Linked DNA regions of Homo sapiens: region 2 is linked to region 1. A link means that fine-mapping ties the variant in region 1 to the expression of a gene that starts in the linked region. Tissue or cell type: fibroblasts. Region 1 holds a variant in brackets; the other region holds the start of a gene. All regions are shown on one strand. Distances are from middle to middle.

Region 1 (8,103 bases):
GGCGTGAGCCACTGTGCCTAGCCACTCCATGCTCTTTTCATAGCTGACTTAGCTTTGGAATGAAGGCCAATGGCAGGTCCTTATAGGGCCCTCATCAGGCTGGGCAAACCTCCCCTGTCAAGGGCCAGGGAGTAAATATTGAGGCTCTTGGGGCCAAAGGGCCTCCGTAGTGACTTCCCAATCCTGCCATTGTAGTGCAAAAGCCCCCAGGGACAACACAGAAAAGAATGCCCGTGGCTGCCTCCCAGCCCCACTTCACCTATGGACACTGACATTTGGATTTCATGATAATTTCCACATATCATGGACTATTATTTGTCTTTTGTTTTTTTTTCAACCATTTAAAAATGTGAAACCCATTCTTAGCTCGGAGACCTGCAAACACAGGCAGCAGCCTAGATTTGTCCCACAGGGTGTAGCTCACCACCCCCGACTCTGCCTCGTAGGCCAAGGGTACTCATTCCAGCAGATTTCCACAAATACTACAAATCTGTACCAAACACCTGACCGGCACTCTTCAAAAAATGTCAAAGTCATGACAGACAAGGAAAGATGGAGAAACTCTCACAGACCAGAAGAGACGGAACCATGACAACTAAATGCAGTGTGGACACCTGGATCCGTTCCTGAAACAGAAAAAGGACATCAGTGGAAAAACTGGTGAAATCCAGCTAAAGTCTGTGGTTTAGTTAACAGTGTTGCACCAATATTAATTTCTGAGTTTTGGGCGGTGCGCAGTGGCTTACACCTGTAATCCCAGCACTTTGGGCAGCCGAGCTGGGAGGATCACTTGAGCCCAGGAGTTCAAAATCTGCCTGGGCAACATAGGGAGACCCCGTCTCTACAAAACATTTTTTTAAAATTAGCTGGACATGGTGGAGCATGCCTGTGGTCTCAGCTAGTCAGGAGGCTGAGGCCAGAGGATCACTTGAGCCTGGGAGGTTGAGGCCGTAGTGAGCCGTGATCGTGCCACTGCACTCCAGCCTGGGTGACAGAGTGAGATCCTATCTCAAAACAAAATTTCTGAGTTTTGCTCAGTGTATCACAGTTGTGTAAGATGTTCACATTAGGGAAACTGGGTGAAGGGTCTAGGGATCATGGCACTATCTTGGCAAGCCTAAAATTATTTCAACATAAAGTTTTTATTTATTTTTATTTTTATTTTTATTTTTTGAGATGGAGTCTCGCTCTGTCACCTAGGCTGGAGTGCAGTGGCGTGATCTTGGCTCACTGCAACCTCCGCCTCCCGGGTTCTTGCCATTCTCCTGCCTCAGCCAGCTGGGACTACAGACGCCTGCCACTATGCCCGGCTAATTTTTTATATTTTTAGTAGAGATGGGGTTTCACCATGTTAGCCAGGATGGTCTCGATCTCTTGACCTCATGATCCGCCAGCTTCGGCCTCCCAAAGTGCTGGGATTACAGGCGTGAGCCACCGCGCCCGGCCATAAAGTTTTTAAAAAATGAAATCTGTACCACCTTTCTGACTCAGTCACCCCTGAATTATTTCCACTATCTGCTCTGTGCTTTCAATTCTTGAGCAGATTCTCCTGCCGGCGCCACAGCACCTGGTCCCCTCACTGGCTGCCTGGCCTGTGCAGACCTGGCCTTCTGCTGTGCTTCGAGGTGATGCAAACAAAAAGGTCTTTTTTTAAACATCTGTGTCCTCAAGCTGTGGCTGCCTGAGACACTGGTGTTTTCGGCTTGAGCATGTTCTTTAGGGATTTGGCCAGCAGTTCCCTTGCGGGCAGCTATTTCCAAATTGACTGTAATAAATAGATGCCAGGCGCTGGGAGTTGACAGTAGTTGCCACCCTGCTCATATGTCATGTAACCGCCCTCTGCTAGCTTAGCTGGAAGGAATATTAAAAAAAAAAAAAGAAAAGCCGGTTGATCCAACACTGTTCAGCGGCAGCGAGATGCTGACTGGTGGGACAGTGAGCTGCGGGTCTCGGTGCCCCGAAGCTGGTGTTCTCCCGAGTGCACTGATGCCAAGGCGGACTCACATTTATCAGTGCCCAGGCGTGAGGCATCAGCCCCAGGAAAGTCGTCCAGCACTGGCATCACTGCCCTCCCTGAGAGTGTGAAATTGCAAGTGATGCCGTGAGGCAAGGGTGGGGGCGTCAATACTGAAGCTGCCCCGCCTCAAAAGGGCTTGGACCATGGCTGGGCACGGTGGCTCACGCCTGTAATCCCAGCACTTTGGGAGGCCGAGGCGGGCGGATCACGAGGTCAGGAGATCGAGCCCATCCTAGCCAACACGGTGAAACCCCATCTCTACTAAAAAAAAAAAAAATACAAAAAATTTAGCAGGGCGTGGTAGCAGGCACCTGTAGTCCCAGCTACTCGGGAGGCTGAGGCAGGAGAATGGCATCAACCTGAGAGGCGGAGCTTGCAGTGAGCCGAGATCGCGCCACTGCACTCCAGCCTGGGCGACAGAGCGAGACTCTGTCTCAAAAAACAAAAACAACAAAAAAAGGGCTCGGACCATCGTCTGAGGCCCCCTCCCCATGTCCTCTTGTTGTTTTGATTGGAAGTCATAAAACACATCAGTGTAAATATAGTATTTATTTTTGCATATCTTTTTAAAGCTGCATATCTTTAAAGCTGGTGGAGTTTTTTGAGGGGAGCAAGTTTCATGACCACAGCAAGGGCAGGCTCCAGTGAGCACTTCACGCCACCTGGATGTGCTGCAGACTGCACCACCCCCAGCCCACCGGCCAGACTGGCTGCCCTGGAGAAGGCTTAGTGGGTAGTCCCCTGGGCCTGGACCACGGCTGTCCCTGCACCCGCGAGGGGATGGGGGGAGTGGGGCACATGCCTCCTGGATGCGAGGGTGGCTGCCGTCCCCCCTCCCCTGGAAGCATCTCATTTCTTCCTTTATAATCTGAGCGAGATGGGGCTGGAAGAAGTGGCTGTAGCCCCAGCACTTTAGGAGGCCAAAGTGGGCAGATCACCTGAAGTCAGAAGTTTGAGATCAGCCTGACCAACATGGCAAAACCCCGTCTCTATTAAAAATACAAAAATTAGCCGGTTGTGGTGGCGCGCTCCTGTAATCCCAGCTACTTGGGAGGCTGAGACAGGTTAATCGCTTGAACCTGGGAAGCAAAGATTGCAGTGAGCCGAGATGGCGCCACTGCACTCCAGCCTGGGTGACAGAGCCAGACTTCATCTAAAAAGAAGAAAAAAAAAACCTGAGAGAGATGGACTTCATTTATTACCCACTCACGAATTCAACAAACGCTGACTGTGTGCTGGGCCCTGTGTGAGGGCTGCCTATCTGGAGTGAACAAGAGAGTGGCTGTTGTCTTTAGGGGGCTCATGTTAAACAAACACATTAATGTAAACTTGCAAACGGTGCTCAGAGCTACGAGGGAAAAGCCCGGCCCCTGTGAGAGGGAATCCCTAGAGGGGGGCAGGTTTAGATGAAGTGGTCAGAGAGGGGAGAATGTTCCAGAGGGAGCCAAGTGAGCCAAAGCTGGGAGCTGCGGAAGAGCCAGATGCATTCAGTGAACCAAAGCTTTCCATGGTCAACCCTGGGGAATGCTGCAGGCTCAAGACAAGGCATCTAGAATGACCTCTAGTGTTCCTTTACCACTGCCAGTGTATGATTCTTCCTCATGAGCCTGAGTAGGAATGTTTCATATGGGAAGTGGGTAGGTGGCGGGGTGCAGCAGCTCACACCTGTAATCCCAGCACTTTGGGAGGCTGAGGTGGGAAGATTGCTCGAAGCCAGGAGTTCAATACCAGCCTGGGCAACACAGCAAGACCCCGACTCTATTAAATTTAAAAAGGAAAAAATGAAGTGGGTAGGAAGAATGGAGGCTGGTCAAGTGTTCCAAGTGGAAGATCTGGCCACTTCTCATTTCTTCATATTCCAGGGTCCTGATGTGGGATAGGCGGTCACTCAGAGGGTCCCAGGAAAGACTAGCCCCAAAGTCAGTGTGTTCCTTCCTATGACACCAGCCACAGATTGAATGGCTCACAGTGGGTTTCAGCCCCACCTACTTTAAGTCCTTAAGTTGGCACTTTTTCATCCTTTTGAGATTTCCAGGGATTTCAAGTTTTTAAAAATGAAATCAGCTGGGCAACATGGCTCATGCCTGTAATCCCAACACTTTGGGAGGTCAAGGCAGGAGGATCGTTTTGGCCTAGGAGTTTGAGACCAGCCTGGGCAATATGGTGAAACCCCATTTTTATTAAAAATACAAAATTTAGGCTAGGCCCAGTGGATCACACCTGTAATCCCAGCACTTTGGGAGGTCAAGGTGGGCGGATCACCTGAGGTCAGAAGTTTGAGACCAGCCTGGCCAACATGGTGAAACCCCATCTTTACTAAAAATACAAAAATTAGCAGGACATGTTAGCACGCACCTGTAATCCCAGCTACTCAAGCAGCTGAGGCAGGAGAATTGCTTGAACTCAGGAGGTGGAGGTTGGTGAGCCAAGATTGTGCCACTGCACTCCAGCCTGGGGGACAGAGCAAGACTCCATCTCAAAAAAATAAATAAATAAAAACAAAATTTAGCTGGGCATGGTGGCACAAGGCTGTGGTCCCAGCTACTCCAGAGGCTGAGGTGGGAGGATCACTTCAGCCTGGAGAAGTTGAGGTGCAGTGAGCTGTTTTGCACCCCTGCACTTCAGCCTGGGCAGCAGAGTGAGACTCTGTCTCAAAGAAGGAGAAGGAGAGAGGGACAGCTTCAATTTGGTGTCAATCATGATCTTTGGTTTGCAGTAATAGAAATTGACTCTGCTTAGCTTAAGTGGAAAAGGACTTGATTTCAAAGCTACCAGGCAACTCACAGAATCAATGGAGACACTGGAGAAGCAAGCCCTGGAGATGAGTGGGAACCAAAGGATGCCAGGACGTCCCAGTGGTGCTGCCACCCCTGAGCACTTGATCCTCCAATCTCGTTAAGATTTCCAATGGCCACGTCTGCTGTGAGTCATTTCTCCATTGTCCCTACCTTCCTCAAACCTCAAAGTCAAAATCAATCCCACAGTAAGATCCCGCTTGACCTCCACTAGGATAGCTAAAAATTTAAAAAGACAATAACAAGTGCTG[G/A]CGAGGATGCGGAGCAGTTGCCACATTGCCGGTGGAAGTGTAAAAGGGTGCAGCTGCTTTGGAAAGTAGCTTGGCAGTTCCTCAAAATGTTAAATATAGAATTACCATATGACCCAGCAATTCCCTTCCTAGGTATGTGGCCAAGAGAAGGGAAAATATACATCCACACATAAAGACCATTATGTACATTAGTGTTCACAGCAACATGAATCATAGTAGCTAAAAGGTAAGGTAAGACCAGGCACGATGGCTCATGCCACAGATCACAGATCCCAGCACTTTGGGATGCGAGGGTGGGAGAATTACTTGAATCCAGTAGTTCGAAACTTTGAGACCAGCCTGGGCAAGTGAGACCTCATCTCTTGAAAAAAACAAAACAAAACAAAACAAAACAAAACCAAGGCAGGGCATGGTGGCTCACGCCCGTAATCCCAGCACTTTGGGAGGCAGAGGCAGGTGGATCACCTAAGATCAGGTGTTTGAGACCAGCCCGGCCAACATGGTGAAACCCCATCTCTACTAAAAATACAAAAATTAGCTGGGCATGGTGGCTCGTGCCTGTAATCCCAGATACTTGGAAGGCTGAGGCATGAGAATGGCTTGAACTCGGGAGGCGGAGGTTTCAGTGAGTTGAGATCATGCCATTGCACTCCAGCCTGGGCGACAGAGCGAGACTCCATCTCAAAAAAAAAAAAAAAAGAAAAACAAAAGGTAGAAACAACCCCATAACCATCAACAAAAGAATGAAAAAACAAATTGTGGTATATCTATACAGTGGAATATTATTTAGCTATAAGAAGAAATTATGTATTAATGCATGCTACCGGATAGATGATCTTTGAGAACATGCTGAGCAAAAGAAGCCAGACCTAAAAGGCCACATATTGTATGACTCAATTCATGTGAAACATCCTTAATTTACGTGAAACCATATAGACTAGTGGTTACCAGGGACCGTGGGGAGGGGACAGAGAGTGACTGTTTAATGTGACTGTTTAATGGGTACAGGGTTTCTTTTATGGATGATGAAATGTTCTAAAATTGATTGTGGTGACAGTTGCACAACTCCGTGAATATACTAAAACCCACTGAATTATACACTTTAAAAGGGTGAATTTTATGCTGCATGAATTATATCTTAATAGAACCATTATTTTAAAAAATCAACCGGCTAGACCATCCACCATCCACACCTAAGGTTGGAACCCATTCCCAGGACTTAACTGGGCCCCCAGTGAAGAGAGAGACAGACCCCCTTTAGCTCCGGTAGCGGGGTGGGGAGGGGCTGCCTCCACCCACAAAGGCTCACCCAGAACTAGGAGGGTGTTCAGATGCTGAACAGGTGGAATCACTCCACATGTGGAGAGTACAGGGGAAGAAGTCTGGGCAGCCTTCTAGATCCCTGACCTAAGAATGTACCGAGCCTGTGTGTAGAAGGATCCCAACTTTATTCCAAGCCACTGGGTCATCCAGACTTTCTGCATTTAGAAAATGCTAATAATTTGGGACCTCACTGAGTTCCACCAGCTGCGTGTTGCTGAATGCTTATCAACCAGCTCTGGGTGGGGAAGAGGGGAGGGGCCTGACGTATAGCACTTGCCAATTTCCATAGTGTAAATATTCCCATTAGAGCTGATTTCAAACTATCAGCATTATGACATGTGTGGAGTCCGGAAGCCCCGGTTCCCCAATCGGGAGAGCTGAGTTCTGGCCACAACTCTGCTAAGTGGCTGGGCAGCTATTGAATTGTAGCTTTCTTTTCTGTAAAAGGAGGGAGGTGGCCTTGATGGTCTTTGTCGTGCTTTGCTTCATCGCCTTTCTGTTCCTGTGTCAGAGGAATGGAGTATATTTCATTCTGTGGTTGGAGCTTTCTCCTTAAAGCTTTGCCTCTTTGCTAGGCCTGGCTAATGACCTGCTCCCTAAACACCAGAGCACCTCTGTTTATGAAACCACAGGCTGCTGCTGCCGCTGCAAGTTGCTAGGCTGCAGAGACTCACCGAGGCTGGGCCTGCACGCGCCTCACAATTACACATCTCTGTTCCAGAGATGGAAACCTCCTCCACCCCGCAGTGGTGAACGAGCCTCCACCCCGCAGTGGTGAACGAGCCTCCACCCCGGAGGAACAGCAGCAGGAGTGGATGGAGACTTGAATTTAGAAAGCAGGGAAAGGGGAATCGTTTGACTTCAGTCCCTAGCGAGGGTCATTACATAGTAATGATGTTTAATCATTATGATGATTATAATGATGACGTGAACAATCGTACAGGTCCTCTAACAAATATAGTCATGTGTCGCTTAACGACGAGGATATGTCCTGAGAAATGCATTGCTGGGCAATTTTTTTCCTGTTTTTTTAAGAGAGTCTCATTCTGTCACTCAGGCTGCAGGGCAGTAGCACGATCACAGCTCACTGCTGCCTTGAACTCCTGGGCTCAAGCGATCCTTCCACCTCAGCTGGCTGAGTAACTGGGACTACAGGGGTGCACCACCACACCTGGCTGATTTTTTTTTCATTTTTTTGTAAAGACTAAGTCTCGCTATGTTGCCCAGACTGGGCTTGAACTCCTGGCCTCAAGTGGTCCTCCCACTTTGGCCTCCAAAGTGCTGGGAGTACAGGTGTGAGCCAGCCATGGTGCCCAGCCCAGACAATTTCATCAGTGTGCAAACATCACGGAGTGTGATTTCACAAACCCAGATGGTGTCACCTACTGTAAACCTAGGCTGTATGGTACAGCCTACTGCTCCTAAGCTACAAACCTGTACGGCCTGGGAATCCTATACTGTACCGTACTGAATTCTGCAGGCAATTGTAACACAAAGGTAAGGGTTTGTGTATCTAAACATTTCTAAGCATAGAAAAGGTACAGCAAAAATACAGTGTAAAACATAAAAAATGGTCCATCTGCACAGGCACTTACCGTGAATGGATCTTGCAGGCTAGAAGTTGCTCTGGGTGAGTCAGTGAGTGGTGAGAGAATGTGAAGACCCAGGACATTACTATCCACTACTATAGGCTTTACAAACATGGTACACTTATGCT
Region 2 (8,103 bases), 94 kb before region 1:
TCTTGAACTTTTGAGCTGAGGCAGTCCTCCTGCCTGGGCCTCTGAATGTGTTGGGATTACAGGCATGAGCCACCGTACCCAGCATGTATGTATTTTCTCCTATCATGTGGGTTGCCTTTTCACTCTGTTAATAGTGTCATTTGATACATAGAAGTTTTAGATTTTGATGGCATCTTGTTTTATTTATTTATTTTTATTTTTTTGAGACAGGGTCTCACTCTGTTGCCCAGGCTGGAGTGCAGTGGTGCAGTCACAGCTCACTGCAGCCTTGACCTCCCTTGAGCAATCCTCCTGCCTCAGCCTCCCGAGTAGCTGGGACTATAGGTGCACACCACCATGCCTCGCTAATTTTTATACTTTTTGTAGAGTCAGGGTTTCACCATGCCCAGCCTGGTCTTCAACTCCTGGGCTCAAGTGATCTTCCTGCCTCCCAAAGTGCTGGGATTACTGGCGTGAGCCACCGTGCCTGGATATCGTATTTTAATTTGTAATTTTTTTGGTATGTACTCCCCCTGCTTTAATTTTAATTTTTTAAATTAAAGTACTATATACAGGCTGGGTGTGGTGGCTCATGCCTGTAATCCCAGCACTTTGGGAGGCTGAGGTGGGTGGATCACCTGAGATCAGGAGTTCAAGACCAGCCTGGCCAACATGGCGAAACCCCATCTCTATTAAAAATACAAAAATTATCTGGGCATGGTGGCACGTGCCTGTAATCCCAGTTGCTCAGGAGGCTGAGGCAGGAGAATTGCTTGAACCGGGGAGGCGGAGGTTGCAGTGAGCCGAGATTGTGCCACTGTACTCCAGCCTGCGCGACAGAGAACCCATCTCAAAAAAAAGAAAGTAATACATACATGCCAGGTGTGGTGGCACATGCCCAAAATCCCAGCACTTTGGGATGCTGAGGTGGGCAGATCACTTGAGCCCAGGAGTTTGAGACCAGGCTGGCCAGTATGGTGAAACCCTGTCTCTACTAAATATACAGAAACATTAGCTGAGCATGGTGCTGCATGCCTGTAGTCCCAGCTACTCAGGAGGCTGAGGCACGAGAATTGCTTGAACCTAGGAGGCTGAGGTTGCGGTGAGCTGAGATTGCACCACTACACTCCAGCCTGGGCAACAGAGCAAGACTCTGTCTCAGAAAAATAAAGCAATACATACGCATGGTTAAAAAATTAATGATATGGAAATATATAAAAGTAAACATCTTCTTTTTCCAAAGGACTAGTCCTCTCTGGAAGTAACCACTCTTAACAAGTTTTTCCATGTTCTTCCAGAAAACTTCGCACACTAGAGCAACACAGGTGTCCTTTTAGAAAATATTATCGGCCGGGCACGGTGGCTCACACCTGTAATCCCAGCACTTTGGGAGGCTGAGGTGGGTGGATCACCTGAGATCAGGAGTTCTGAGACCAGCCTGGCCAACATGGCGAAACCCTGTCTCTACTAAAAATACTAAAATTAGGCGGGTGTGGTGGCGGGCACCTGTAGTCCCAGCTACTCAGGAGGCTGGGGCATGAGAATTGCTAGAACCTGGGAAGCAGAGGTTGCAGTGAGCCAAGATTGTGCCACTGCACTCCAGCCTGGGTGACAGAGTGAGACTGTGTCTCAAAAAAAAAAAAAAAGAAAGAAAATATTATCAAATAGGTTCATACTTTGGTGGGGTTTTGGTTTGTTTTGACTAAAACCCTTCATTCTCTGTACTGTATTTGAACAATACCTATTGATGGACATTTCTGGTGTTTTCAGTTTTTGAATTTCTACACAGTCCTGGAATGAACATTTCATTTGTATGTCTCGCTAATTTTTATACTTTTTGTAGAGTGCTGGGATTACAGGCATTTGTATGTCTTGTAATTTGTATGTCATCTTGCAATTGTGTACTATGTACCTTGGATGTACCTTTTAAAGATCGTTGGTGGTGGGACACGTGTTTTTTGAGGAAGATGGTACTGAGGTCAGCACCCTGGCTGCCCTGAGAGTGCAGTGCCACGTTCCCCACCCTCTCGCCAACCACAGGATTATGCTGCAAATGTAAATCTTTACCAATTTGATAGGCAAAAAATGGGATCTCAGCATTTTAGCCTGCATCTCTGAGTACTAACGAGGCTGAACACGAAATGAGCTTATTTTCTTTTCAGAAGCCCCTGAATGTGACAGTGATCCGCAGGGGGGAAAAACACCAGCTTAGACTTGTTCCAACACGCTGGGCAGGAAAAGGACTGCTGGGGTAAAGTATCTGTTTCTGTTCATTCTCACTGGGGCATCATTTGAGTGTTTGTTAAACATGAAGCTGGAGGGGAAGGCTGGGGAGACATTGGGGAATAATGGGAATCCCCAGTTTGCATGGAAACTGCAGATAAATCCTCGTGGTAGGAACGAGACTACAGCTCTAGAAGCAGAGGGAGCCCCAGAGTCTCTCCTGGGAGTCTCTCCAGTTCATTCATGCACTAGGCATTTGCTTTAAAAGAATGAAAGAACATTGGTGAAAAGGTCAGAAGGGCTCAGCCTCTGACCTTCCTGAAGGGAGCCTCCAAACTTACGCCATTCCTTTTCTTCTTTCTTCCAGCTGCAACATTATTCCTCTGCAAAGATGATTGTCCCTGGGGAACAGTAACAGGAAAGCATCTTCCCTTGCCCTGGACTTGGGTCTAGGGATTTCCAACTTGTCTTCTCTCCCTGAAGCATAAGGATCTGGAAGAGGCTTGTAACCTGAACTTCTGTGTGGTGGCAGTACTGTGGCCCACCAGTGTAATCTCCCTGGATTAAGGCATTCTTAAAAACTTAGGCTTGGCCTCTTTCACAAATTAGGCCACGGCCCTAAATAGGAATTCCCTGGATTGTGGGCAAGTGGGCGGAAGTTATTCTGGCAGGTACTGGTGTGATTATTATTATTATTTTTAATAAAGAGTTTTACAGTGCTGATATGACCCTGTTGTCACCCCAGCTGAATTTCTTATGACCCTCCCAAACCAAAGCTCAGATGGGGTCAGAAGAGCTTCATAGAAAGTTGGGCAAAACAGGCTAGCAATTGCAAAGTCAGGCTTTGACCAACATATTTCTTTGCACTGAGGCCTTGCTGCTGTGGATACGGAAATGGTTAAGTACTGTGCTTCCTCAGCAGCTGGGCTGTCAGGGCCATAGTAGCTCCCTTTGGAGAACAGGGAAAGCCTGGAGGCTTCCCAGGTGGCCCAGCGTGGTGTCCTGTCAGCTTCCTCTTTAGGAACCCACCAGAGGGCAGCAAGCTCCTTTCACTTCGCTAGTAAGAACCCCTCCGTTTTTGTGTGTTTTTGTTTTTGTTTTCTGGAGACAAGGTCTTGCTTTGTCACCCAGGCTGGAGTGCAGTGTCGTGATCAAGGTTCACTGAAGCCTTGACGCTGTGGGCACTGCCTCAGCCGCCCAAGTATCTGGGACCACAGGCGTGCACCACCATGCATAGCTAATTTATTTTTTGTAGAGACAGGGTCTCCCTGTGTTGACCAGGTTGGTCTCGAACTCCTGGGCTCAAGCAGTCCTCCTGCCTTGGCCTCCTAAAGTGCTGGGATCACAGGCGTGAGCCACTGCGCCCAGCCCACTGCTAGTTTGACTTTTTATAATTGAACCTCCTGGCTATGCCCTGAGATCAGCGCTATTTTGTAAACCGCTGAGGTATGGATAGGAACGAGTAGATCAGACCTCTTGAAAATGCTTATTCTTCCTCCCTTTTATTTTTTGTCTCTTTTAAGATGGTAAAATGGTTCTCAGGGATTCCTGCCAATACTTTGAATTATTTTTTCCTCTCCATGGTATCAGTGTTCATTTCCCCAGTTCTTGCACACCGCTTTCTGTTTTGGCAGTTCTGCCAGGCAAGCCCTGTGTTCCTTGGGACTGGTTTTGCTGTGGTTGGATACAGATACCAGCTTGCCTTGATGGGATTGGTATTGCTGTGTGCTTCCAGCCACAGGTTCTCACACTCAATTCCAAAGCCTTCCTATTGGGCGAATTCCCTCAAACTCTATTTGACCTGACAGCCATACGTATTCCCCTCTGGTAGCCACAGACATGCTGTGTTTACCAATGTTTGCTGTTTAAATTGCATGTTCTAATTCCACGTATTTTCCAGTCTCTTTTATAAAGTCTCAGACTATAATAAACACAGCTTGCCCAGTTTATCCTTTCTTTTTTATTTTAAGATGTATGCATATTAATCAATTTACCATCACTGGGGCATGGCAGTGTGGGCGGGGAGAATTATTCACATTCTCCTAAAATGACAGCAGCAGAGAGCCTTCTGCCTCAGTGGCTCTGGCTGGTTTCCTGCAGGGGTCCCAGTGGAAACCCGTGTGGCCACCTGTTGCCGTCTTCCATGAGATGTTAGTGGAGAGCCACTTTGACGTGGAATGATCCTAATAGATATAGCCAGACCGGTTTTGCGGAAACGCTTTGTGCTGAGAACCGCAAGCTGGTGCACCCTGTGTCATATCTGCCCCCAGCCAGCTGGAATTGTCTGCAACACGCGGTGCCCGGTGAGGAGGCAGGCAGGACGGTTGTGTGCTGCATCCATGAGACCTGGAAATTCAGTTTGCTTTTGGAAAAGAGCATTGTATCCGAGTTCATACTTCTCCACCCCATCTTGCCAAGGTTGCGGAAAGTAAAAATTGGCAGTATTGGCCGCTGCAGCTTCTTAGGGGACGGGACCATGTGAAAAGGTGGGATCGTGCGAGCGGAGGAAGGACAGAAAAGCGAGGAAAGTCTATGCCGCCAGCGACCGGCAGGAGGCACGTCGGGCACGCTCGTCACCGTTTCCTGGCACGTGACCACCGCCCTGCCCTGTCGCTTTAGGGCCTGTCGCTTCCGGCGGTGGCGGTTGCCATGGGGACGGAGCTTGGGTGGCAACCAGAACTAGGGAGCTGGTGGAGAAGGTGGCGGCCGCTGGAAGGAGGCCCGGGAGGTGGCTGAGGGGTCCAGGCGGCGGGACGACTCTGGCCTTTTGAAGACCGGGGTGGGTGCTCTCTGTAAGTCCGGGGCGGAGGCCACGCGGCCCTGGCGAGGGGGCCCCCGACCTGGCGGGGTCTGGTGCCCCTTGGGGGGCGCTCACCCGACCTGGCCCTTGTGGGGCCTGGGGCGGCCCCAGGGAGACCTGAGTTGGAGGCAGAGGCCGCACCTGGGCTTTAATCCCCTCGCAGAGCCACGCACCTGGCACCCCTGCCCCAAACCCCTGCGGCTCGAACCCGGCTGTCCAGACGCGCCGGCGAAGTTGGGCTCAGTCAAAAGAGGCTCGGTGGTGAGAGCCCTAGACTTGATTCAGAGCAGTGATTTTTCAGCTGGAGAAACTAAGTGCCAGAGAAATCTCGTTCTTACTAGCGGTGTCATCTTGAATAAGTCACTTCACCTCTCAGAGCCTCAAACTCATTTATCCATTCATTATTTATTTATTATTATTATTATTATTTTTTTTTTACCAGAGATGAATTTGAGGAGCTGATACATTTAGTGCTGAGAAAGAAATTAAGAAATAGAAATACCTTTTCTACTCTGTACTCTCTGGGACTTTATTTTCAAAGTGTTGAGTTCTCTTATTCTAATGTCACTGAAAATGTAGGGATTTTTTTTGTTCGGGGTCCAACTCTTTAGGGATAAAGTATCCATCCTTATTGTTTTCCTAGTTCAAACTCTTGTTTGTTGTAAGGAATAAATGGAGAATATGCCAGAAGGCTTTCAAACTGTTCATTTCTTTGCACATTAGGGTTGCTTTTCTCTCAAATAATAACAACTGCTACCATTTTTTCAAGCTGTATGTGCCAGAATTGTGATGAGCATTTTATATATGTTATCACTTCTCTACAACAACCCTAGAATTTAGGATTATTCTTTTCATTTTGCCCATGAGAAAATGCAGACTCTGAGGGGTAAAGTGACTTGCCCAAGGTCACAGAGCAAGTACGTGGTGGAAATGGGATTCAATGCTAGGACAAGCTGACAGCAAGGCCCTTGCTTTTAACCACTAGGCTACCCTGCTTCTTCTCGTATTCCTGTTTCTAGAATTGTTGCTAATATGTGGGTTATGCATTTTGCTGCCTGTGGGAATATAAATATATTTTAAATGAGTAAAAAGGCTACAAGGTGTTTATTCCCAGAAAGTTGACAGGCCCTGGATCAGTATTTTTAAGATCTGGGCCACAAATACATATACTTTAAGATTTCCCAGCTGCGCGTGATGGCTCACGCCTGTAATCCCAGCACTTTGGGAAGCCAAGGCGGGCGGATCACTTGAGGTCAGGAGTTTAAGACCAGACTGGCCAAAATGGTGAAACCCTGCCTCCATTGAAAAAATACAAAAATTAGCTGGGTGTGGTGGCAGACGCCTGTAATCCCAGCTGCTCGGGAGGCTGAGGCAGGAGAATAGCTTGAACCCTGGAGGCAGTAATTGCAGTGAGCCAAGATCGTGCCACTGCACTCCAGCCTGGGCAACAAGAACAAAACTCTGTCTCAAGAGAAAAAAAAAAAAAAGGTTTCCCACAAATGTGACTTTTTTTTTTTTTTTTTTTTTTTGAGAGAGGGTCTCGCTCTGTTGCCCAGGCTGGACTGCAGTGGCATGATCTTGGCTCGCTGCAACCTCCGCCTCCCAGATTCAAGCTATTCTCCTGCCTCGGCCTTCTGAGTAGCTCAGATTACAGGCACCACCACCACACCAGGCTTTTTGTATTTTTTTTTTTTTTTTGAGACGGAGTCTCGCTGTGTTGCCCAGGCTGGAGTGCAGTGGCACGATCTCGGCTCACTGCAAGCTCCGCCTCCCGGGTTCACACCATTCTCCTGCCTCAGCCTCCCGAGTAGCTGGGACTACAGGCGCCCACCGCCAAGCCCGGCTAATTTTTTGTATTTTTAGTAGAGACGGGGTTTCACCGTGTTAGCCAGGATGGTCTCGATCTCCTGACCTCGTGATCCACCCGCGTCAGCCTCCCAAAGTGCTGGGATTACAGGCGTGAGCCACCACGCCCGGCCAACTTTTTGTATTTTTAGTAGAGATGGGGTTTCACCATGTTGGCCAGGCTGGTCTCAAACTCCTGACCTCAACTGATCCTCCCGCCTCAGCCTCCCAAAGTGTTGGGATTACAGGCGTGAGCCACTGTGCCTGGCCAGAAATATGACATTCTTTTTTTGTTTTTATTTTTGAGACAGAACTTTGCTCTTGTTACCCAGGCTGGAGTGCAATGGTATGATCTTGGCTCACTGCAACCTCTGCCTCCCAGGTTCAAGCGATTCTCCTGCCTCAGCCTCCCAAGTAGCTGGGATTACAGGCGCCTGCCACCACACCCAGCTAATTTTTGTATTTTTAGTAGAAACGGGGTTTCATCATGTTGGCCAGGCTGGTCTCAAACTCCTGACCTCAGGTGATCCATCTGCATTGGCCTCCCATAGTGCTGGGATTACAGGCATGAGCCACCGTGCCTGGTCAGAAACATGACATTCTTTTTATTCCTATGGAAAGGGAACAGAGCCATTTATGCACATTTCATCAGTAGGTTAGTGCACTAGGAGATGGAAATGGGAAGCTGAGGGCCAGCTGGTTATTATGGTCAAAATCTCTCTAGAGGAAACTCTACAGAGAAGAATGTCAGATGCAGCAGAAGCTCCCCGAGAAGCAACAGGAGAAAATGGAGAAACAGAAATGAAAGAAGAGGAGGAACCTAATCCAAATTATAAAGAAGTAGAAGATCCACAACAGGAATCAAAAGATGACACAATAGCATGGAGAGAGTCTCAGGAGGAGGAGAGGAAAACGGGCGAGGAGGAAGGGGAGGAGGAGGGGAAGGAGGACAAAAAGATTGTCATGGAAGAAACTGAGGAAAAGGCTGGAGAAGTCCAAGAGAAGGAGGCTTCAGGAATACAGGAAGAAACCACAGTAGAGCCCCAAGAAGTCACAGCGTCCATGATCCGTTTGGAGACACAGATTACTGATTCCCAGTCAATCACATCAGGAATTTTCCCAGTAAGTAGTCATCTTAATTCATTCATCAATTCATTCAGAATCATTAGTTGAATGCTTAGTATAGGCCAGACTATGGGAACACAAAACCAAATAAGGTACAATCCATTCCTTTTTTTTTTTTTTTGAGACAGAGT

Evidence for each region. PIP is the estimated chance that this variant, and not a neighbour inherited with it, causes the effect.
Region 2: it holds the start of CFAP251, and the variant in region 1 is fine-mapped to the expression of CFAP251 in fibroblasts (GTEx, PIP above 0.99).

Annotation. Positions count from the first base shown.
Region 1 is chr12:122,007,309-122,015,411 of GRCh38, forward strand. No RefSeq gene overlaps it. Among named protein-coding and RNA genes, the nearest start is that of BCL7A, 11 kb to the right of the region's middle. The variant G/A (reference allele first, on the strand shown) is at 5,064.
Region 2 is chr12:121,913,715-121,921,817 of GRCh38, forward strand. It overlaps CFAP251 (cilia and flagella associated protein 251), which reads left to right and starts at 4,878. Exons shown (of 22, transcript NM_144668.6): 1 at 4,878-4,981; 2 at 7,572-7,969. The coding sequence starts at 7,592. It overlaps PSMD9 (proteasome 26S subunit, non-ATPase 9), which reads left to right. Exons shown (of 6, transcript NM_002813.7): 5 at 2,142-2,230; 6 at 2,570-4,583. The coding sequence ends at 2,597. RefSeq lists a silencer at 5,007-5,156.